3 linked regions of the Homo sapiens genome follow. The protein of the gene in region 2 interacts with the protein of the main gene of each other region in a pairwise test. Each region holds a gene or a part of one and is shown on either strand. Other genes may lie near its edges.

Evidence for each region.
Region 1: the proteins of GOSR2 (region 2) and TLCD4 interact in binary tests that used the Homo sapiens proteins (3 or more experiments, as listed by UniProt).
Region 3: the proteins of GOSR2 (region 2) and GOLGA8F interact in binary tests that used the Homo sapiens proteins (3 or more experiments, as listed by UniProt).

What each region holds. Positions count from the first base shown.
Region 1 is NC_000001.11:95,140,339-95,148,463, forward strand, and holds part of TLCD4 (TLC domain-containing protein 4), read left to right. Parts: intron 1-3,552; 5' UTR 3,553-3,563; coding exon 3,564-3,718; intron 3,719-8,125. Other genes in the region: TLCD4-RWDD3 (TMEM56-RWDD3 protein), read left to right, coding at 3,564-3,718.
Region 2 is NC_000017.11:46,917,828-46,927,287, reverse strand, and holds the start of GOSR2 (Golgi SNAP receptor complex member 2), read right to left. Parts: upstream 4,129-9,460; 5' UTR 4,096-4,128; coding exon 4,067-4,095; exon of another isoform or gene 3,656-4,066; intron 1-3,655. UniProt on the Homo sapiens protein: Involved in transport of proteins from the cis/medial-Golgi to the trans-Golgi network.
Region 3 is NC_000015.10:28,387,648-28,392,630, forward strand, and holds the end of GOLGA8F (golgin subfamily A member 8F), read left to right. Parts: coding exon 1-46; intron 47-620; coding exon 621-721; intron 722-803; coding exon 804-904; intron 905-993; coding exon 994-1,146; intron 1,147-1,231; coding exon 1,232-1,416; 3' UTR 1,417-4,374; downstream 4,375-4,983.

The DNA of each region.
Region 1 (8,125 bases), on a different chromosome or scaffold from region 2:
CGTCTCTAGGTGATAGGAATTTTCAGCTCCATTATAATCTTATGAGACCACCATTGTATATGTGGTCTGTCATTGACTGAAACATCGTTATGCAGTGCATGACTGTACTTCAGACCTTTTCATGTTTTTCCCTACTAAGAAATCAGTGTCAATTAAAGTTTATGTAAACCATCTTTAATGAAAAGTATAAACATTATTTCATTCAACAGGTCTCTGGAAAAGTTTCTTTGATGTCCACAATTCCTGTGAATCAAGATGGACTAATTATAATGTAGAGTTCATGTCTAGACGCTCTTGTAAATTGCTACAGAAGTATTTCCCTTATCTGTTTCAGCTGCTCTTCGCTAGGCCAAATAGTATCCCAGCTTTCTGCCAGCTACTAGCTACCTGTAGAGGTATATGAAGTAGGTGTGCTTTTCCAGTTTTACTGTATATTCCTATACTTAATAATCACCAAACTCTTGCAGGCCCTTAACATATGTTAGTAATGAGCATCCTTTGGTTTTATCACTTTTTACCATTTTTCTTGCCTGATTCATGCATTAAAGTGAATGAACAGGGGTAGCTGCTTCCTACCAGAAGCCTTGGTTTTCTGGGGAAATTTGTAAAGATCTCTAGATTAGTTCTTGATTTGGCATGACTGATTAAGCAAGCAGCTGTTCACTAAGAGGCAAAGCTGAGAGTAGAACAATTTAATTGGCTTCTATCTGTTGAGCTTTTAATGGAAGTCACAGCTTGAATATATGGAGCTCTTTATTTAGTTTTAAATGAAACATTTTTCCAAAGGGAGACTCTAAACATATATCCCAAAGTCTTACCTGATAATAATTCTGTTCAAAATATAATATTCATCCATTAGAACAAAGACTTAAAAACTCGATTTTTGGGCGAGGGTGGGATGATACATTTTTTAATGGTGAATTGTTTGAGTGCTTTTAAATACAGTAGTTAAATGAACAATTCATAAAATGGATAAGGTATGATATGTTTTATGACACCTTTTAACATTCATGAAATAAATGCTTTGTATACATTGAATTTTAACAAACTAAATGAGCAGCCCGTGCCCACCTTCTGCTCTAGGATCAGCAGAGAGCATACGAAAGTCTTCAGGGGAAACCTCCTCACATTTAAGATTAGATTCTCCATTCTCTTCTGATTACTGATTATATTTTTTTTCCAATTTTGTGTCCATCTGGCCTCCAGATACCTATTTGCTTTAATCTTAGAAAAGCATTATTCTCCTTACATCCCACTTAGCAAATTATGGTAATGCTTAATTTATGTACAAAACTTTTATGTATTGTTTGGTTAATATTAAACCTAGGCTAAAAGACCACAAATTAAAATTTTAATACCCAATAAACATATGTTGAATTAAAAAGAAGTAAAAGAGCAGTAAAGTTAATGGAGTCTCATAGAGAAGAATTGTAATATCAATATTTTTACCAAGTACACACACACACACACACACACACACACACACACACACACAAAGAATGAGGAAAGAATTCATTATAGACATATGAATTCTGATGGAAGGGGCCCTGTGGGAGATTGATTCTTATTACGATATCCTGGTTGGAAGGGAATGAAGTGGGGTTATTGCTAGTGCAGTCAATGACTTGGCTTTTCTCTGGTGAATTGATTTCAGTAGGTGACTTTATTTCTTTGCATTAGGCAGCTGGAAATGTGTATTGATTTATTTCTTTTTCATTTGAGAATCAGCTTTATCAAAGATGGAGCCATAGAAATGCTGTATTTGCTGGATATGAGCAAATGCCTTAGTGCCTTTTTTTTTTTTTTTTTGCTCTGAATGTTCCTAAGATTTTTAGGAGCCAAATAAAGTTCAGCTCAATGAAATAGAAAACACACTTTGAGTGTGCATATATGCATAGTACTATTCTTTCTGCTAACTCGATTGTTAAGACCTGAAGCTCTTTTATAAAAATCTTTTTTTTTTTTTTTTTTTTTAATAAGGGATACAAAGCCCTGCAGGCCTTTTGCTCCAAGAATGTGTGTGATTGAAGAGCATGTTTTAAAAGTTAAATTCTCATTTGTGCAGTGACGGTGTTAGCGGTGGAGGGTGTTCAGGTTCTTGGCATTTTGAACAAAGAATTAGACAAAATGCACAAAGCAAGGAAGGAATGAAGCAATGAAAGTAGCGATTTATTAAAAATGAAAGTACACTCCACAGGGTGGGAGTTGGTCCTACCATAGGGGCTCAAGAGCCCGGTTACAGAATTTTCTAGGGCTTAAATACCTGCTACAGGTTTCCCATTGGCCACTTGTTGTACACCCCATGCAAATGAAGTAGTGGCCCACAATCTAGGCCGGTTGTGGTGCCTCACGCCTGTAATCCCAGCACTTTAGGAGGCTGAGGTGGGCAGATCACGAGGTCAGGAGTTCAAGACCAGTCTGGCCAACATGGTGAAACCCCGTCTCTACTAAAAATACAAAAATTAACCGAGTGTGGTGGTGCGTGCCTGTAATCCCAGCCGCTCGCGATGATGAGGCAGCAGAATTGCTTGAATCCGGGAGGCGGAGGTTGCAGTGAGCTGAGATCTATCGCACCACTGCACTCTAGCCTGGGGGACACAGCAAGACTCCATCTGGAGGCGGGGTTGGGGGCGTGGCGGAGGGGAGGGGAAGTTACACTTCTGTGCAAAGGAAGACTTGGCTGGCAGTCAGTCAGATTGGTTGGGGAAAGCAACCAATCAGAGGCTGAAATGAAGTTATAAAGTTATACTCCTATGTAAACGTCTGATTGGTTGCGGAAAGCAACCAATCAGAGGTACTTTCAGTTTTCCATTTGCCACTCAGAAAAGTGAGGGAGGGGTTTTCAAAGCGAGTAACCTCCAGTTATTTTGTTAGTTAGGTGTGTAAAGTTGGGCTTTTCTGTTTGATTTAGTTCTAGGAAGTCAGTATGAATCGGCCTTAGGTTCCCTGCCTCCAGACCCTATTGTCTTGCCTCAACAGTGCAATGGCTCTTTGCTAAGACTGTGTTCTTCTTAAGATTTTAATTTTGTTTTAAATGTTGTTTGTCCTGCTCCAAAATTAGTTTTTTAATTATGGAATTATTTTTTGTTTTGTTATTACAGGCAGTGTTAGTTCTATGGTTTTTGGCTTGATTGTTTCTTAGAAATTATGTAACCAACTCTTTCATATCATAGATGAGAAATTGAGGGATAAAGAAATCGATTTGTCATAAATTTAATTGAAATATTATTAGAAGAATAGTTTTTACTTATAGTACTTGAAATTCTCTGTTAATATTAAGACTTAGATAATTTTGAATATCATGATGTTAAAATTATAAATGACACCTCTAATATTGAGATCTTTAAGATAAAACAGACATAAGATACATGACAAATAGATGGTAAAGGTGAAGAAATATACAAAAGGTCAAAAATTCTTATAGTTTATATTCTTAACATTTGTTCTAAATTTTAAAAATTACTAAAATTACAAGACATATTTCTTAAAATAAAAAAATTACTCTAGGTTTATTATGAGACAACAATTTATAGCTGTCATTTATCTTAACAGGTTGAAGAAATATGGAGATCAACACAAAACTGCTCATCAGTGTTACCTGTATCAGCTTTTTCACCTTTCAGCTTCTTTTCTACTTTGTAAGTTACTGGTTTTCAGCAAAAGTTTCTCCAGGTTTCAATAGTCTCAGCTTCAAAAAGAAGATTGAATGGAACTCAAGGTAAAGCATATGAAAATGTAATTGATGACAAGAAACTAGTTTATGAGATAAAATTATTTAAAATATTTCAAAAAAGTATTTCATTTAGGATCTAATGTAAGGCCAAATTTTTATTTGATCTTAGAAATAAAAGGAAAAACAAGTAGATGATCTCATGCAAAAAAAAGTTTAAGAATTCATATATTGAAAGATGTTAGGAGAAATTTACTTAAGTTTCTGAGGAAGTGTGTGAAGATGAAGTAGACTCCAGCTGACTGTGGATGAATACTAGTACTTTCGTGTTCTTCTTTGAAATATTTATAACAAACATATTCTTTGGAAACAAAGATGGAAGAAAAAATTAGTTGTACTTTTGAGTAGCTTATACCATACAGCATTGGCCAACTTAGCCAGACCTGGGGCAGTTAGACTCTACACATCAGGGAACAAAGTGTACAGTCAGTGCATATGAATCTTTTAATGAACTTTGCATTATAATTTAGAGCCCTCCAGCATTTATTATTTTGTTATATAATTTTAAAGTAAAAATTTCTTTTTAGTTTTTTTTTTTTAAACAGAAAAGTAAATGGAGAAAGAATTAGACATCTATTGATATAGAAATCTGCTGGAGTTTTATTTTTTATTTTTATTTTATTTGTTTATTTATTTTTTTGAGACAGAGTCCCGTTCTGTCGCCCAGGCTGGAGTGCAGTGGTGAAATCTTGGCTCGCTGCAACCTCTGCCTCCCAGGTTCCAGTGATTCTCCTGCCTCAGCTTCCTGAGTAGCTGGGATTACAGGCATGCGCCACCATGCCAAGCTAATTTTTGTGTTTTTAGTAGAGACAGGGTTTCACTAGGTTGGCCAGGCTGGTCTTGAACTCCTGACCTCAGGTGATCCACCCACCTTGCCCTCCCAAAGTGCTGGGATTACAGGCATGAGCCACTGCACCCTGCCAGAGTTTTAAAAAGTTGGTTGCAATTTTTTTGTGTGTGTACAACTTATTAATCTCACAAGATTTCAAACACAAAATGGCTCTGATGACTTCTTCACGTGCTTTAGAGCATTTTATGTCCCCAAACATCACTGTGCATTTGTAAACCTCAGTGAGTCAGAGCAGCCGTGGCCTTATTTTTTGTTGTTGCTATTTAGTTGAAGTTAATACTAACCATAAAATGGATTCAGCAAGTCTCTAAAGTTTGCTATAATTATCTTTCATTGAAATTTCCTTTTAAAATTCAAGAAATTCTGTCAGTGTCTGAGTATTTATTTGAGAATGGTCATATTTGATTTGAAATTCCCTTTGAACCAAATTGTTTTGCAGGCATCTACTTTTATGATTCAGACTGTGAATTTAATAAGACTCTAGTTGTTTTTTTTTGTACTTTACAGTGATGTATCGGGTTCATACATGTCAAAGTTCTTTTCACCCAAAAAGCAAGAATTATTTCTCCACATATTTTCAAAAAATAAGCAGTATGATTATTTTGTCTTAAGACTAGCACAAAAATATTGTTCAAATGCATTATACTAGAGATACCATTACTTTAAAAAATCTTTTCTAACATATGAAGATAGATGGAATGGTAGGAAAGAGAAGGGGGTACATACGTTCTCTGATTAAATGTTGAACTATTTTCATTTCCTCTTTCCTGTGGTTAGGATAGGTAAAGGCATTTGAATGTTAGGTAGCTGCAAGTCAGAGAAATAGGAAAGGGTACAGAGAGATGGAAGCCAAGATGAAAATGAAATGAAATTGAAGAATATTTTGCATTATCTAGTCTTATCACTGCCATTCTATGACACAGGAAATACCATTTGGGAAACTGAATTTCTATTTGAAAAAGGAGTCTGGGATTATATAAAATTCATTTAGGTATTCAGTGGTGTTTTCTCTTTTTCTCAAGTTTGCTCCTGCTTCTCACTCCAGCTTTTTTTACAAAGGACTTAAGCTGTAAGGTGGAGAGTGCAAAGTAGGACAAGGAGGCTGTATTTTGAGTAAAATATGTATAAATGTCTTAAAATTCAGCTTCCAGTTTGAAACATACAGGTAAACACACATAATTCTTTCTAGTGATCAGGAAAGAGTCTCTAAACATGAGTTGAGAGTGGTCTGAGCCATCTAGTATAAAAAGAAATGGAGGAGAAAAAATCACTGGAAATGCCCATTTGAGAGACAACAGTTTAGTTAAAAGTGAGAAATTGTTGTACTGAATTGTTACTTTTTCTGAAAACGTGTATACTTACAGGTGCTACATCTTATAATGTAAAAAAATTTTCTTAATTACTTATATTCACTTTCTTACCTATCACATTGAAAGTCTTATTGTGTTGAAATACTACTAATTTTTAAATGTTTCTCTAAAATTTAGCTGAGTTATATAATTTCTGTTGGCAATATTTACACTACTTGTGATTAGTAACTTAAAATTGCTATTCTAAAATAGTCATTAATCATTTCCTTAGAGTGCTATCCCTTTATATGCACAAACATTTCTTTTCCACCCTCTTTGAAAAAAAATTGAAATATTTTATCTTGGGTAATATCTTGGAATTTCTTTTTAGATACTAAGGAATCTAAATTTTCCTTTGCTAGGAATCTGATTTTAAATAATAAAATATAAAATTTTTATTAACAGAAGTTTCTGAAACTATAGTATAGACTTTTAATACAGAATAGTGTATGAGTGAGGGCAGGGTATTTGTTTTTCCTCCTCATTACAGAGGGAGATATTTGATTGGACCAAGTAATATTTAACTTTTCTGTACTGAATCATACACCATTTCCATCAGCTGAGGGCTTAGAATGCTTTCCATTTACCACATAACATCTCAAAAGAGAAGTGAATCTGAGGCCTGAGTGTCAGAAATAAAAAGTTAGGTTTTTCAAAAGGGAGCTTTCTGACTATGGTTACCAAACAGTAAAACAAGTTTGTAAGAGAGATTATATATTTTTAAATTTTATATAATTTTTGAATAGCAATAGAGAGTGGGCTGTATGACCATTTAAATGGAGTATTTTATTTTATATCAAGGAATTTAATTTTTTTTTTTTTTTGAGACAGAGTGTCGCTCTGTTGCCCAGGCTGGAGTACAGTGGTGCAATCTCCACTCACTGAAACCTTTGCCTCCCAGGTTCAAGTGATTCTTGTGCCTCAGCCTCCCGAGTAGCTGGGATTACAGGTGTGTACCACCATACCCAGCTAATTTTTGTATTTTTGGTAGAGATGGAATTTCACCATGTTGACCAGGCTGGTCTCAAACTCCTGACCTCAGGTGACCCGCCCACCTTGGCCTCCCAAAGTGCTGGGATTACAGGTGTGAGCCACCATGCCCGGCCAAGGAATTTACATTTTTATCCTGTGCTCAAGGTGTGCTTGGCATGAAAATTATAGACTTGTAAACCAGATAAATTGGATTAATTATTCACATTTCAAAATGATTCTTAGGTATTATAAATGATACTTGGTCAATGCCTTTAAATTGGTGAGAATCTTTGCTTATTTAAAATATGGCTTGATTTAGCATGATACATCTATTTTGTAACACACTATTAGGTCAAGTATATTGGTTTCTAAAGTTACAATGAAATTTTCTGATACCAAACCTAATATTAGTTGATATATTTTACTTTTAAAGATTTGGGATCATATTGTAGAGAAAAATTTATTGCACACCAGTAATTTTTAGAGAGAAAACTTTGCTGTACCTCTCATTTTTTATCCTAATGAAGTTTCATTACTTGTGAACTTCTCAATAAAGATGTGAGAAATCTGAAATTGTTGGGTAAAAAAACTTTATTGTATGGATGAATACACAGTATCCTAAGTATAGTTCTCTAAGTAACATAGAGCTTGGGAATTAGTCACATCATTAAATTTATTAACAAGATATATTCATAGAAACTTATGGTTTTTATGTTAAACTTATTCCTTCTATACAAGAAAACTTGACCTGGATCTTGAGAACATTGTGCTTTCACTTGGGTATTTCTTTTAAAAACAAATTTTCCGTATACATTTATGGTCCTCAATTTTTCTATTTAGAAATGTTTTCATAATAATGATAAAGAGGGACTAATAATAGCTACCCTTGTTTTCTTACAAATTTGTTACAAGAATCAAGTGCAATAGTGCATGTCAACGTACTTTAAAAACTGAAGCCTCCCAAGATAATAAATCTTCATATCATGATCCATTCGAATTGTTTTAAGGATATGGAGTTTGTTAAAGCCAGTAGATCTGGAAGTCATTCCCAGCTGATTGGAGCAGGAAACTTATCCTGCATTGATGCTGTTGGGGCTGGAGCTTGGAGCCAAGGGTAGTGGCCTTGCCAGTTGCCATCTGGCTGCACAAAAGTCTGTCAGCTGCATCATCATGTATGCATTTATCTGTCTTAGAACTTTTAACCAATAAGTGATTCACCAGTTC
Region 2 (9,460 bases):
AAGGATTGACGTGCAGAAAATATATAAAGAATTGTTACAAATCAATACAAAAAGTCAAACAAGGCATTTTTTTTAAATGAAAAAAGGGCAAATGACAGAAAAGAAAACCCAAATGGTCAATCAATATACAAAATGACACTCAACTAGGAAAACACAAATGAAAAGCAATGAGATCACATTTCTTCAGCCCATCAAACTGACAAATATTTTAAAGTTTGGGGACATATGCATTAATAAGGAAACAGGGAAACTAGAACTCTCATACCCAGCTGGTAGGATTATAAATTGGTAAAACACTTTAAATGCTTTCTGACAATAACTAGTAGAATAAAGCATGTGTCCATGCTATGACCCAGCAGTTTGAGGAATGTGTCCTAGAGAGGTTCTGGCATACCCTGAGGAGATGTACATGGCAGGACGTTCATCAAAGCACTTTTGTACAGGCCCATAATCCACTGACTTTTCCCATCAAATCTCTATTTGCTTTGAACCAATCAGAGACAATGTGGCCAATAATACAATTCCAGCGGCTACATTTCATGCTAAGAAAACATAAATATGAAACAACAAAGCAAGTATGAATGGCAAGGTGGGAACTACTAATATGCCAAGTGCAAAATCTGTCTCAAACTGAACTGGGAATTCTAACACAACATAACACACTGGAAGTCCATAAGAAACAGGTGATACACAAGCATGACTTGGGAGCGTGGACATGAGGAAAAAGAAGTCTTAGCCCTCTCTAGCATGGGGTCCATGGTGGGCTTGGGTGATAATATAACAAAGCAGAGAAATAGTAGCAAATAAGCCAGGGTCATTGTAGCCGTCTTTAAAAAAGGTTTACAGAAGATCTAGGAAGAATTTTTTAATGGAAGTGCTTTTTAAAAGTTCATGAAACTACTCACCGCCCCCCACCACCCCATAACATCCACTTTGCATCCAGGCTGCCTCTGACCATGATGAACATGAAAACGCTGTGTAACCTACACAGCATCATGTAAGTTTGTTGTTAACTTTACTTAAAAGTAGTGGCAACAATCTGGTCATTTTCATTTCACTCACTTTGCCTTTACATTTCGCTCATTAAAGGGCAAAATCTATAAAGGAAAAACATGGTCTTGAGATAAGGTAATAGTTCTTAAGCTCCGCTGTTCAGGAAAAAAAATGGTCTTGAGATAAGGTAACAGTTCTTAAGCCTACCTGCTCATCAAAACCACCTAGGGAGCTTGTTAAATGTAGTGCTTCTTGTGTCCTGGACATACGATAAGGTCCAGGACAGGAGACTGATCTTGGACTACATAGGGGACAAATGTGGTCACCTTTACAACCATTGGGATCTCAAAAATAGAAGCCTGGCTATTAGCTCCTCTATAAAGTTCATCTAAATTAAACATTTAAGTGTAAAATGTTTATTGTTTTCATTCATTCATTATTTTCATTCATTCATTGTTCAGGTAGGTTCAGGAGTTTTCAAGTAACTTTAATATGTCAATCTAATTCCAATGTACTCAATGTATTCAGTGACACGGCAAGAGATAATCACAAACTGGGTTCAAAGTTCCAGTAAAATTAATAAGTTCAGCTACTGTTGTGTCAACTCAGCTACAATCACTAATTTCTGCAGTTGCGAAAGTTCATTGCTGGTGCTCACTGGACTCCACGTGTTTCTTGTGAAAGTCATTCAGTCATCAGTTCTGTTATCATGGAACTGAAAGGAGCCTTACAGTTTAACCAGCCCAAATTATAATATCATTCTACAGATGAGGAAAAATAAAGTAAGGAGGTCTAGAACCAGAACTCCCACTCCTGGTTCAGCACTGGAGAGGAAAGATAGACAAGATACTGCAGCATAAAAGAAGGTAAACTCCTCGAGGGCAGGGCTGTGCTGCCAGCACTGAGAATGGTGCACAGCACATAGTAGGTGCTCAATAAATATTCAATGAATTAATGAGTGTCGGGGTAGCAGAGGGCCTAATAGTTGTGGGGCAAAGCTGGCCCACTGCTTGTTTTGATAAATAAAATTGTACTGGAACACAGGTACATCAATTAGTTTACATATTGTCTATGGCTGTTTTCCCAATATAACAGCAGAGTAGTAACTACAGAGACCGTATAGCCCACAGAGCCTAAAATATTTACTATCTGGCCCTTAATAGAAAAAACTGGCAAGCTGCTAGAGTCCAAGGGTGCATTGTTGGAGGCCTACAGAGCATCTACACTCCACACACCTTGTTTGGGGTACCATTTAGAATTCCTCTTCTGAGCCATGCAGTTTTCTCTGTGATTAGCTGCACTGAAAACAGGTAGTCTAAGACTCTCTAAATAAAGTTATTCTTGAATATAAAATGGGTCATGGCCTTCTTGGCAACATCCTTTAACTAAATTAACTAGATAAGACCATACATAACAGATTAACTTCAAGGCACTACTATGCCCATTGTGCCCTGCTATTGTGAAAGATAGGCCCTTTCTTAGTAACATGAACATAATTTCGTTTCATTCTTTCTCTAAATTACTCACAGACTAGTTTTAAGTCCCTTCCTATAACGTTTATGTGAGAATAGGGCTCCCCAGTGTAAAAGAAAATTCTGTCATTACAAAGTAGGTTCTGTATTTTCGCCTGTCCAAATGAAACACCTCATCGCCAAAATAAAAGAAACCCATAAACTTAGAAAATGAAAGAGAAAGAGGATCATCACCCTCTTATTCCTCATGCTTCAGGGCATTTCATTTCCAGGCCTTGGGAGTGTGATTTTAAGTGTTTTAATCAACAAAACTACAGCATAAGTTTGAAAGTTCTCAATAGGATAGGTATATACCTCAAAAAATTGAGAAGAGAAACTAAAACAGATACTTCTACACCAGAGTTCATAGCAGTATTATTCTCAACAGCCCAATGGTGGAAACAACTCAAGTGTCCATCAACAGATGAATGGATAACAAAATGTGGTAGACACATAAAACGGAATATTATTCCGTCATAAAACAGAATGAAATTCTGGTAACAGGCTACAATATAGATGAACCCTGAAAACATTAAGTGAAATAAGCCAGATACAAAAGGACAAATTCTGTATGACTCCACTTATATTAAGTATCTAGAATAGGTAAACTCATAGAGAGAAGTAAAACAGAGGTTACTAGGTGTTCTGGAAGGAAGAAATGAAGTGCTACTGATTAACAGGCACACTGGGATGATGAAAAAGTTCTGGAAATGGATCGTAGTGATGTAAGTTGTGAATGTACTCAATGTCACTGAATTGTACACTTAAAAATTGTTAAAACAGTAAATCTTATGTTGTGTATATTTTACAATAAAAAATAAAAATCATAAAATTCCGTCCCTCCAAAACAGGGTAAAAATCATAATTCTGCCCCCCGCCCCCAAAAATAGGGTAAGTATGGCCCCATTAATACTCAACTACGTATCTCAGCAATTCCGAAAGTGCAGGACGATGCGAATAAAGGACACTACCAAGGAATTTAAGTTATGAGAAACTAAATTACAATTTGATTTTCTTAGCGATAACCTGTAACCAGATACGATTAACAAGTAATAATAGTGAATGCTACGTGGACAGCAATTTCTTTGTACCATAAAAATGTGGTCTTTAGTATAAATCGAATAAGAATACAAATACTTTCCCGTACGTGCCCTGACTCTCCAATTAAACAGTACACTCCTACGGCCAGGGGCCGTGTCTCCTACTCCGTGTCTCCTCTCGAGGTCTACCAACCAGGAGCACCGAGTTGACAAGTGCTGGACAAAGTTTTATAACCTGCAGGTGCCAGTTTCCCGTCACCCAGTCTACCCAGCAGGTAGTCACGAACTTGCAGACCCCAGGAGTCATCTGCCCCACGTCTCCAGGCCCCAGCCTGAACCCACTGTCTGTGGCTGACCTGGGAGTCCCGCCAAGGATTAAGCACTTCGGAGGCATCCCCAGCAGTGCCCTGGCGGAAAAACTCGGCCTCTACCCTGGCTGACGTCCGAGGCCTCAGCCCCAGAAGCCAGGCTCACCTGGCCTCGCCTCGTCTAGCCCCTGCCCGCTCCCCGACCGGCCCTCACTTGTGCGTTTGCTGGAACAGGGGATCCATGTCGCCGGCCCCGCAGGCCACGGCTCCGGCTCTGGCTTCCTCGGAACACGTCCTCACAGCCCCCCTTCCGGTTTCCGGCTTCCGGTCGCAGGACCCTCCCTCCCCTGCCGGCCAGGGCTGCCCGCACGCGCGCCTTACTAGCAGTGGTTGCGAGATCGGAGAAGGGGAAGGAGAAATGAGGCCGGCGACGGAAGGATAAGTGTAGTCACAGGCTCGGCTTCACGTGAAGGGCAAGGCGGTGTACATGTTCGCTGAAGGCTAGCCTCAGGATTCAGTCAGGCGTTAGGAAGGACAATCGCGGGATACTAACGAGAGGTCCTCAGAGCAAAGTTGAAGGCGAGCCGCTATCATCTGCTGTTCTCTGCCGCAGAGAGGACTGGAGGTTCTTGCTTGGCTTCACTTTAAACCATTTAATCGGGGGTCTGGAGATTTCGCTCTTCACTGTTTTTCCTGGCGCAAGCTTTTCCTGTTTCGCATTTGTCTACTCACTCTCCCGCCTATCTACCCCCCATTCCTATTTATCCATCCAGTAAACCTACATTGAATGAGTGGTTATTATGTGTCATGTGTAAAGTAGGGAAAACCGGGTTCCTCCTGCCCTCAAAGAGGTTCTGGTCTGGGAAAGGAAATAAGATATGTATACTCTCAAAAGACAAAATTACAAGAAATGTAGTTATAGATTTTTTTTCTTTATTTTATTATTTTTTATTATTATACTTTAAGTTCTAGGGTACATGTGCACAACGTGCAGGGTTGTTACATATGTATACATGTGCCATGTTGGTGTGCTGCACCCATTAACTCGTCATTTACATTAGGTATATCTCCTAATGCTATCCCTTCCCCCTCTCCCCACCCCACAACAGGCCCCGAAGTGTGATGTCCCCCTTCCTGTGTCCAAGTGTTCTCATCGTTCAGTTCCCACCTATGAGTGAGAACATGTAATGTTTGTTTTTTTGTCCTTGCGATAGTTTGCTGAGAATGTTGGTTTCCAGCTTCATCCGTGTCCCTACAAAGGACATGAACTCATCATTTTTTATGGCTGCATAGTATTCCATGGTGTATATATGCCACATTTTCTTAATCCAGTCTGTCATTGTTGGACATTTGGGTTGGTTCCAGGTCTTTGCTATTGTGAATAGTGCTGCAATAAACATACATGTAAATGTGTCTTTATAGCAGCATGATTTATAATCCTTTGGGTATATACCCAGTAATGGGATGGCTGGGTCAAATGGTATTTCTAGTTCTAGATCCCTGAGAAATCTCCACACTGTCTTCCACAATGGTTGAACCAGTTAACAGTCCCACCAACAGTGTAAAAGTGTTCTTATTTCTCCACATCCTCTCCAGCAGCTGTTGTTTCCTGACTTTTTAATGGTCGCCATTCTAACTGGTGTGAGATGGTATCTCATTGTGGTTTTGATTTGCATTTCTCTGATGGCCAGTGATGATGAGCATTTTTTCATGTGTCTGTTGGCTGCATAAATGTCTTCTTTTGAGAAGTGTCTGTTCATATCCTTCGCCCACTTGTTGATGGGGTTGTTTGTTTTTTTCTTGTAAATTTGTTTGAGTTCATTGTAGATTCTGGATATTAGCTCTTTGTCAGATGAGTAGATTGCAAAAATTTTCTCCCATTCTGTAGGTTGCCTGTTCACTCTGATGGTAGTTTCTTTTGCTGTGCAGAAGCTCTTTAGTTTAATTAGATCCCATTTGTCAATTTTGGCTTTCGTTGTCATTGCTTTTGGTGTTTTAGACATGAAGTCCTTGCCCATGCCTATGTCCTGAATGGTATTGCCTAGGTTTTCTTCTAGGGTTTTTATGGTTTTAGGTCTAACATGTAAGTCTTTAATCCATCTTGAATTGATTTTTGTATAAGGTGTAAGGAAGGGATCCAGTTTCAGCTTTCTACATATGGCTAGCTAGTTTTCCCAGCACCATTTCAAAAACGATGGTTAGATCCCACGAAGTAGGTGGTAATGCCTTAACCGTATGCGTGTTGTCAGGCCCAAGGGCCTCTTCCATCCTTGTCAAAGGGAGTGCTAACCTTCTCTCCTTTAATACAACACAGTTACAGATCTTAACTGGCTATTTGCGATTCTAGCACCAGGCAACACCTTATTCTATAAAATAGAATGAGTATTCTGATGAGCTGAGCAGAGGAGATTATCTTTATAGACAGAAAAGGGCTGAAAAAAAAAAGCAGAAACAAAGAACAAGTTTCAAAGTTATTTTACTTGTATTGGTTAAGGCAGAAGGGACTTCCTTTATCATGGGGATATGGCTATTTTCCCTCTCTTCTGATTTCTCCTAAGGTCAGATGAGCAGCTTAATTTTGGCTTTGTGGCTTGGAACTTTAGCATGAGTGACTCTATTTTGGTTTGGCCTGTTGCGCCTAGTGCAGGAGCTCAGTCCAAACCAATGGCTTTCTATGAATTTTATTTATCAAGACAAACATTCTAGAAGGTAGAAAATCCAAAGAGATTGAGCTGAGCTGGGGGTCGTCTCTAGGAGGAGATTTAGGAGAGACTTAATGAAGGGGTGGCATTTGAGCTGGGACTGGGTTTGGACACTTCTCTGTCTCCACATAGGCTATCCCGTTTCCATCCTCCAAGCTTATCTACTATTCCTCCCAAGGCAGGAGACATTCTTTTCTTGGACAAGTTGATACTTCTCTTTTCCTGGATCCTGGATCCCACCCAGTTTTGTGTCCCAAGAGACTGTCCACCCATGTACATTCTTTTCCTAAAATTATTTTTTTCACTTTTTCTATAATTGAGCATCTACAATGTACCATGCACAGATACTGGAGATAGGAACACAAGCAAGACACAGCCCTAAAACCTCCCATATCTCTCATGGTCTGTTGGGAGAACTAATCATACCCTCAAGCTACATTATTAAGTAGAATACATGCTACAATTGATACAAAGTACCATTTCCGTGGGAAGGGCAAGAACGGTTCATGGACAAAATAGCATATGAATAAGACCTTCAAGAATCAATAGAATTTTAACAGTGTCTTGTATATACTAACCACTCTGAAAATGTTTATTGTGTCTGCCTGGTAGAGATGAAGAGGAGGGCATTTGAGGCTGAGGGAATAGCTTGAGCAAAGGCAAACAGAAGGAAAGAACATGAATCTCCTCTGGCTGGATTCAGGGTGTTTGGGGCAATAATAGTAGTCGAAGAAAGGTTAGAACGAGATCATAGGAATTTTTTTTTCTTTCTTTCTTTCTTTTTTTTGAGATGGAGTCTCGCTCTGTTGCTCAGGCTGGAATGCAATGGTGCAATCTTGGTTCACTGCAACCTCCGCCTCCTGGGTTCAAGCAATTCTCCTGCCTCAGCCTCCCGAGTAGCTAGGATTACAGGCACCCACCACCACGCCCAGCTAATTTTTGTATTTTTAGTAGAGACAGGGTTTCACCATGTTGGTCAGGCTGGTCTCGAACTCCCGACCTCAGATGATCCACCCGCTTTGGCCTCCAAAGTGCTGGGGTTACAGGCGTGAGCCACTGCGCCTGGCCAGGAAATCTTAAATGTCAGATTGGGTTTTTCTTTATAGATTTTTATTCTGCGGGTAGTTGGAAGCTATCAGAAAAATCTATCAGAGGATAGTAATGTAAAAAATTTCTCAAATAATTTTCATGCCTATGTCTTGTTTTCCTTTGGGTCTCATGGCATCCCTGGGAGGTGGATAAGGCAGATAAGGAAATTGAAGTCCAGAAGATCTCCCTTCTGCCTCTCAGTCTCTTAAGTCTTTATACGTATTTAGGCCTTCCTCTAAATAGAAGAAAATGCCACTCTCCAGCTTACTGCATTTTTAACTTATATCCCATTTTTTCTTTTTCTTGTATGGCTAAACCACTTGGATAATTGATATATACTGCTGATATTCTCTTGGCATGACTTACCCTCCAGCCTCTCCTTCATTTTACTAGAACGTTTTCTAGGCTCACCAGAGTCCACTTGACTTAGTCCATTGGTCTCCTTCCATAAATCATCCTACATTATAGATTCATTGAGCTGATAACTGTGTGTCAAGCACAATGCAAGGGCTGATATACAAAGATGAGTAAGACACCACCTTACCATAGAAGCTCTTTAATATACTGGGAGGTAAACATCTATACAGATAATTAGAATCCTATGTGGTGAGTGTGGGGTACAGTAATTGGGAACTGTGGGATGACAAGGAGGGAACACTTAGCCCAGTTTGGTGACTCAAGAGAGATTCAAAGAGGAGATGATACCTAAACTGAATCTTGGAAGATAAGGCCAGTGGGGAAAACATCCCAGGAAGAGGAAACAGCGTACACAAAAGCAAAGATATATGATGTGCAGGGGAAACTACAAGCAGTTTGAAGTTACTAGAACATAATGCACAAAAAGACAAAGGACAAGGCCAGAAAGGTAGCTTGTGGCCAAGTCAGTCTAAGGAGCTTGGACTTCATTCTGTAGGAGGGAGGGAGCTGCAGTCCAATGACCCTTGTGGTTCAGGGGGAGCTATTTCATTAGTACTTCATTGGTGAGTAGTGCTCTGGGAAATTGTATGTGTGTGTGTGTGTGTGTGTGTGTGTGTGTGTGTGTGTGTGTCTGCCTGCTATATCTCTATCAGGTTGGTGCAAAAATAATTGTGGTTTTGCAATTACTTTTAATGGCAAACCATAATTACTTTTGCACCAACCTAATACCTACATACCTACCTATTTATCTATCACGTTGACAGGACTGTATCTAGGTTTTGTGGAGCCCCAAGCAAATGTTTTTGTGGGCCCAGTCTGTATATGCAATTTGATTAAAAACTGTGTTATAGGCCGGGGGCGGCGGTTCACGCCTGTAATCCCAGCACTTAGTGAGGCCAAGGTGGGCGGATCACGAGGTCAAGAGATCAAGACCTTCCTGGCCAACATGGTGAAACCTCTTCTCTACTAAAAATACAAAAACTAGCTGGGCATGGTGGCACGTGCCTGTAGTCCCAGCTACTCGGGAGGCTGAGGCAGGAGAATTGCTTGAACCCGGGAGGCGGAGGTTGCGGTGAGCTGAGATCGCGCCGCTGCACTCTAGCCTGGGCGACAGAGCGAGATTCCGTATCAAAAAACAAACAAACAAACAAAACTGTGTTATAAAATTCATGGACTCGTGAAGAATAGTGATTTAACAACAAAGATTTAGAATAATTAGTAGAGAAAAGTACTTAGATATTTGTTTATTGTCTAATAAGTGCATGTGAATATTCTTTACAGTGTTCAGGCACCATCGCTTTCTGTCTGGGTCCAGGAACTATCTCTTTATGTTATTGTCAAATGTGCTATTTCTCACTAGTTTCTGGCTACATGAGAAAAGGGGAACAACATTGTTATTC
Region 3 (4,983 bases), on a different chromosome or scaffold from region 2:
GCCCATTCCTAGCATCCCACAGGACCTGGAGAGCAGGGAGGCCATGGTGAGCCTGACTCCACCTGAACCCATTTTGCCTCCTTCCTCTGTGGTCCCTCCAAGACCCCTTTATGCTCTTCGTTTCCCTGCCTTCTGATTTCTCTGGACCCTCACCCCTTCTGGGAGCCAGTGGTCAGACACCATTTCACCTGTGACCAACATGTGCAGTCTCTGGGGCCCCAAGGGAAGGGGCTGCGCTCCACCTCTCTGCCCCATTTGTTCTGTGTATGCCCCTGCAAGAATGCTCACATCTTGCCCTCAGGTGGCATTTTTCAAGTCCGCTGGAGCTAGTGCCCAGGAGAAGCAGGCACAGTTACAAGAGCAGGTGAAAGAGCAGAGGGTGTGCTGCCAGCGCCTGGCTCACCCGGTGGCCTCGGCCCAGAAGGAGCCAGAGGCAGCCAGAGGCCCTGGAGCCCCAGGGCCTGGGGGCGAGTCTGTGAGTGGGGAGACCCACCGGGCCCTGCAGGAAGTCACGGAGAAGCTGGCCCATGCCGGAACTCACCTCCGCCTTCTCCATGACTTGAAAATGCCACCTGAGGGCAGGTCGCTGGCGAGATGTGACCCCATTATTTTGGCTCCAGAGCGGCTTTATGGACCACCTGGAGGAGAAGGCAGACCTGAGTGAGCTGGTGGAGAAAGAAGAACTTGGATTCTTCCAGTACTACAGAGAGAGATGCCATCAGTGAGTGGGAGGCCAGGGCATGGCAGGGGGAGCTGCAGGGCTGTTGGAGGGGCCCCAGCGTCTGAGCCCTGTCCTCCCGCAGGAAAGTTTATCACCCTATAACAAAGCCAGGGGGCAGTGCCAAAGATGCAGCACCGGGAGGAGGACACCATCAGGCTGGCCCTGGACAGGGAGGAGATGAAGGTAGAGTGTGCAACATCTCTGCGGGGGTGGGGGTGGCTGTGACGGTGAGCGCTGGCAGCAGCGTGACAGCTGAGCACCCCTCCCTCCAGGTGAAGCTGCTGGAGCTGCAGGAGATGGTGTTGCAGCTGGTGGCGACTACAAGGGACACAGCAAATTCTTGGTGACTGCCCAGAACCCTGCTCATGAGCCCAGTCCAGGAGCCCCAGCCCCCCAGGAGCTTGGGGCTGCCCACAAGCATGGTGGTGAGTAGAGCCCTCAGGCGGGGTGGGCAGGCAGGAGCAGGGGGGCTCTCACTGAGCTCAGATCCCCGCCTCCCTCTCTCCAAAGATCTTTGTGAGGTGAGCCTCACTGACAGCGTGGAGCCTGTGCAAGGAGAGGCCAGGGAGGGTTCTCCCCACGACAACCCTACTGCACAGCCGATCGTGCAGGACCACCAGGAGCACCCAGGCTTGGGCAGCAACTGCTGTGTGCCATTCTTTTGCTGGGCTTGGCTGCCAAGAAGAAGGAGATAAACATCACCATCGTCAAAGAGCTGCTGAAGAAATTTTTAAAAAAGAAACAAAGTTATGGGGTTAATCTCCTACACAATTCATTTACTTCATTTGAATGTTATAGCCACTTATGATTATTTGTGTTTCTAATTTATAGTTTAAGTTCATTTGTAAATAGTTAAAAGAGAGTGGGTCTCTGTGGCTTTCACTGATGTTCACTCTGGCATACTTTCGCAATTTTCTTTTTCAATTTCATAATTGTAGGTCATTAGCATGCATATTGAGTTTGCCCTTACGTGGTGGGAGTTCAAACACACAAAGACCCACTATTTGCACAAAACTATTCTTGCTGGTTTGGAATAGGCTGCCATGTGTTTTTAATGTTATTGCAGCATGTATATTCATTACAGAATTCAGATAAAATGTGCCTATGTTCTGCTGTTGTTTGATCTAATCTTAATCACAGTGAGCTCTTCATTAGCACAATATGTGGTTTGCCCCAAGTGTGCACTATTTAATACTTTGTAATATGCCACCAAGAGTACTGACATTTAGAGTTGTTTAAAGGCCGAGAACTGGAAACAGCCTTTCCCTCATTTTCTGTGTATTGGTGATGGGAGTAATAACATTTTGGGGGAGCTTTTTAAATTTCACAGAAGAGGAAAGTTGCCTGCTCTGGCAGGTATGTGCAAGATAGAGTGTGTTTCATTTGTTCTGTTGCCAAGAATTAGTGCTGTACTATTGTAGTTCCTTTAGGATTTGTATGTGCTCTGGGCTCATGAAGATATTGCATCATGAGCTTCAGCAGTTGTACTCTTTTTTGATGACCTAAAAAGGGCTTATTTCTGAGGAATGAAAGGTTCCCATCATTGACTACGGATGTGGAAAACCTTTCCTAGCTTAGAGCATTTGTATCTATATTTTAAAGTCAGAGTTCATGTTACCTGTTTTAATCACATGACTGCATGTCCCAGTACACAAAAGGGCACTGGTTGGCATTCTTCTTAATGTATTTAGTAAAGATCATAAGAAATCCTTTAAGAGTTCAAATGTCCCTGGAACAGGCATACAAGCTCTAGTCAAGAATGAATTAGAGTGAAGGAAAGCTGTGTGACACCTGGCATTCCTCTGTTCATGGAGCTTCTTTGAGGCTTGAAGATTGATTTTACCATCTAGACCACTCTGCCTATTCTTCAACCACCTTGGTTACTTTGACATAGGAATTGACTTCTTTTCCTTGAATGGAAAACACTTTGAAATAATAATAAACATTGTTATAAACTAATATATGTGAGAGTGCTTAGTTGAAACAAAAAGGAGTTTTAGTAGACAGTATTATACTATCTTTGAAAATCAAGGAGAAGTTTATGCAACTTAAAATGTGTACAAACTGCAGTGCAATCTACTGTTGGTGAATGTCAGTGTATTATCAGGAAACATGTCTATACAATCACAGAGTTATATTTCCTCACAAACTTCTTTGTGAAGAGTGAAATGTGTTTCTGTACCTCTGGGTTTCACTTACGGGCATATTTTGTGCAGTATTTATGTGATTGTGCCTATGCATGATGAATGAATGAATTTCAGTTGTACATTGCCTAAATCATAACTTGATGATGCTTGGGAAAGACTCAACAGTTAAAACTTCATGAAGTTCTAATGTCTGTGTTCCAAAACACATCACATTATTAGGATGTAGGGAGATATGTATGTGTGCTCCCTGGGGTGGGGATTTCTAGTTACTAGACCATCTCCATTTTTAGCATTTGGCATCCTCATGATACTTTTATAAATACGACATTAACAGGAGAGCAGCAGTACGATTTTGCCGATGGAATAACAGATTTGCCGGCAATCACTGAAAGAGTGCAAACATCGGGTCCTTGTGACTTCAACGGACTCTTCCAAATTGTATGAATGTATCAATGTATTAGATAAACCCAGTTTCAGAATGATAAAGAAAAAATGTTAGACCAAATAATGCGGCTAGTTAACAGTGGTACGATTTCTCGCCCGTGGCTTTAAAATGCACTTAAAGTCCTGTCCTTGCCTTTTATTTTCTGAACTTGATGTTTTTGCATTCTTTGAGTTCAGTTTAAAGACAACTACGAGCATCTGTAACCAATCTGACAATAATGTGTTCATCAGGTGCCTGTGGATTAAATCACATACTGGCATATTTAAGCTGAATGTCAATCTGGAAAATAAATTGACTGTATTAACGGAAATACCACTCTTTGTGTAGATATTTGTCGTATATTTAAGAAAAAGCTAAAAAGAATGGAAATCGCATGACTATAACTTAAGTCTTTCTTCAAAGTGCATGCAGTCTTTTGCGATACCTCATTCAGCCAAGTATTGGTATTCTTCCTCATTCGGTATAAGGCAGCTTTCAATTTGCTTAGAGGGCAACATTGGAAGGTTAGAGTTCATCAGAAACAGAATTCTAAAATGTGAGTTCAATTCAATAAATTTGAATTTCTGTAGGAAGAATCAAATCACCGATTTAAAGATTGCAATATATAATAATCATTTTTAAAGTATTGGATTAAATCTGATAGGTTTTCCAGAAATGAACAAAAATCAGCTCTAAAACCAAAGCTGATTTTTAGAAAATTTGAAAATGTAAATCAGCCCTATCCATACTATAGTTTCTCTAAAACTTTATCTGAAACAGTCATTTTAAAATAACTATTAAACAATGTAACTGCTATCTTAATGTTCTGAAATAAGTTAAAACATTTTAAAATATGAATACTGTAAAGGAAATAAACGGTGGGAAGGAAAAGTAGAGAAAGAAATGCCAATTCCAGTCCAAAGCTTTATTTGCCAAGTTTTCTTAGAATGAATTTTACCAATTTATGAATTCTTGTAAGCGGAATGTAAAACGGAAATACTGAAAGACTTTTGCCTAAAGTGGCATTATTGACTGCTGGTGTGATGCTACTGTAATGTAATAAATTATTAAGTTGTTGCAAAGTGCTGTTTTTGCCTTAAAATTTTATTCTGTGTGTCTTCAAAAATATAGTATTAAAGGTATTGATACTGTGCAAATGCTGAGCATGCTTGGCATGAGATAATGTTTCATTTTTACAAAATTGTAATATAACTATGCAAGGGTTTATTAAAAGAACACAAAATAAAAAAGTTATGGGATTAACAAAAGTTATGGGGTGAAAAAGTTATGGGATAAAAAATGTAAAAAAGTTGTGGCAAAAAAATCTTGTGACCAAAAAGTAGAAGAAAGTTTTATGAAAAGTTACCAAAAAAAGTTATGAAAAAGAAGTTATGGGATTTAAAAAAAAAGGCATGGGATAAAAATAAAAATTAAAATTAAAAGCAGGCCCCTGTCAGCAAAGCCTGGAGAAGTGGGGCTGGGGTCTCCACCACCACACTGTCCCTATCTCCCCTTCCCAGTCACCCCTTTACAATTAGGGTAGCAGGACAAGACCTCTGTCTAACGAGGAAAGACAAACAGACCCTTTGCCACCTTGACCAGAGCTGAGTCCTTAAATTTCTGGAAGATATTGTTATTTAAGAGCCAGAGGCTGGTGGAGTTGGTTTGTTTGGAGGAGGCCTCATGGCCTC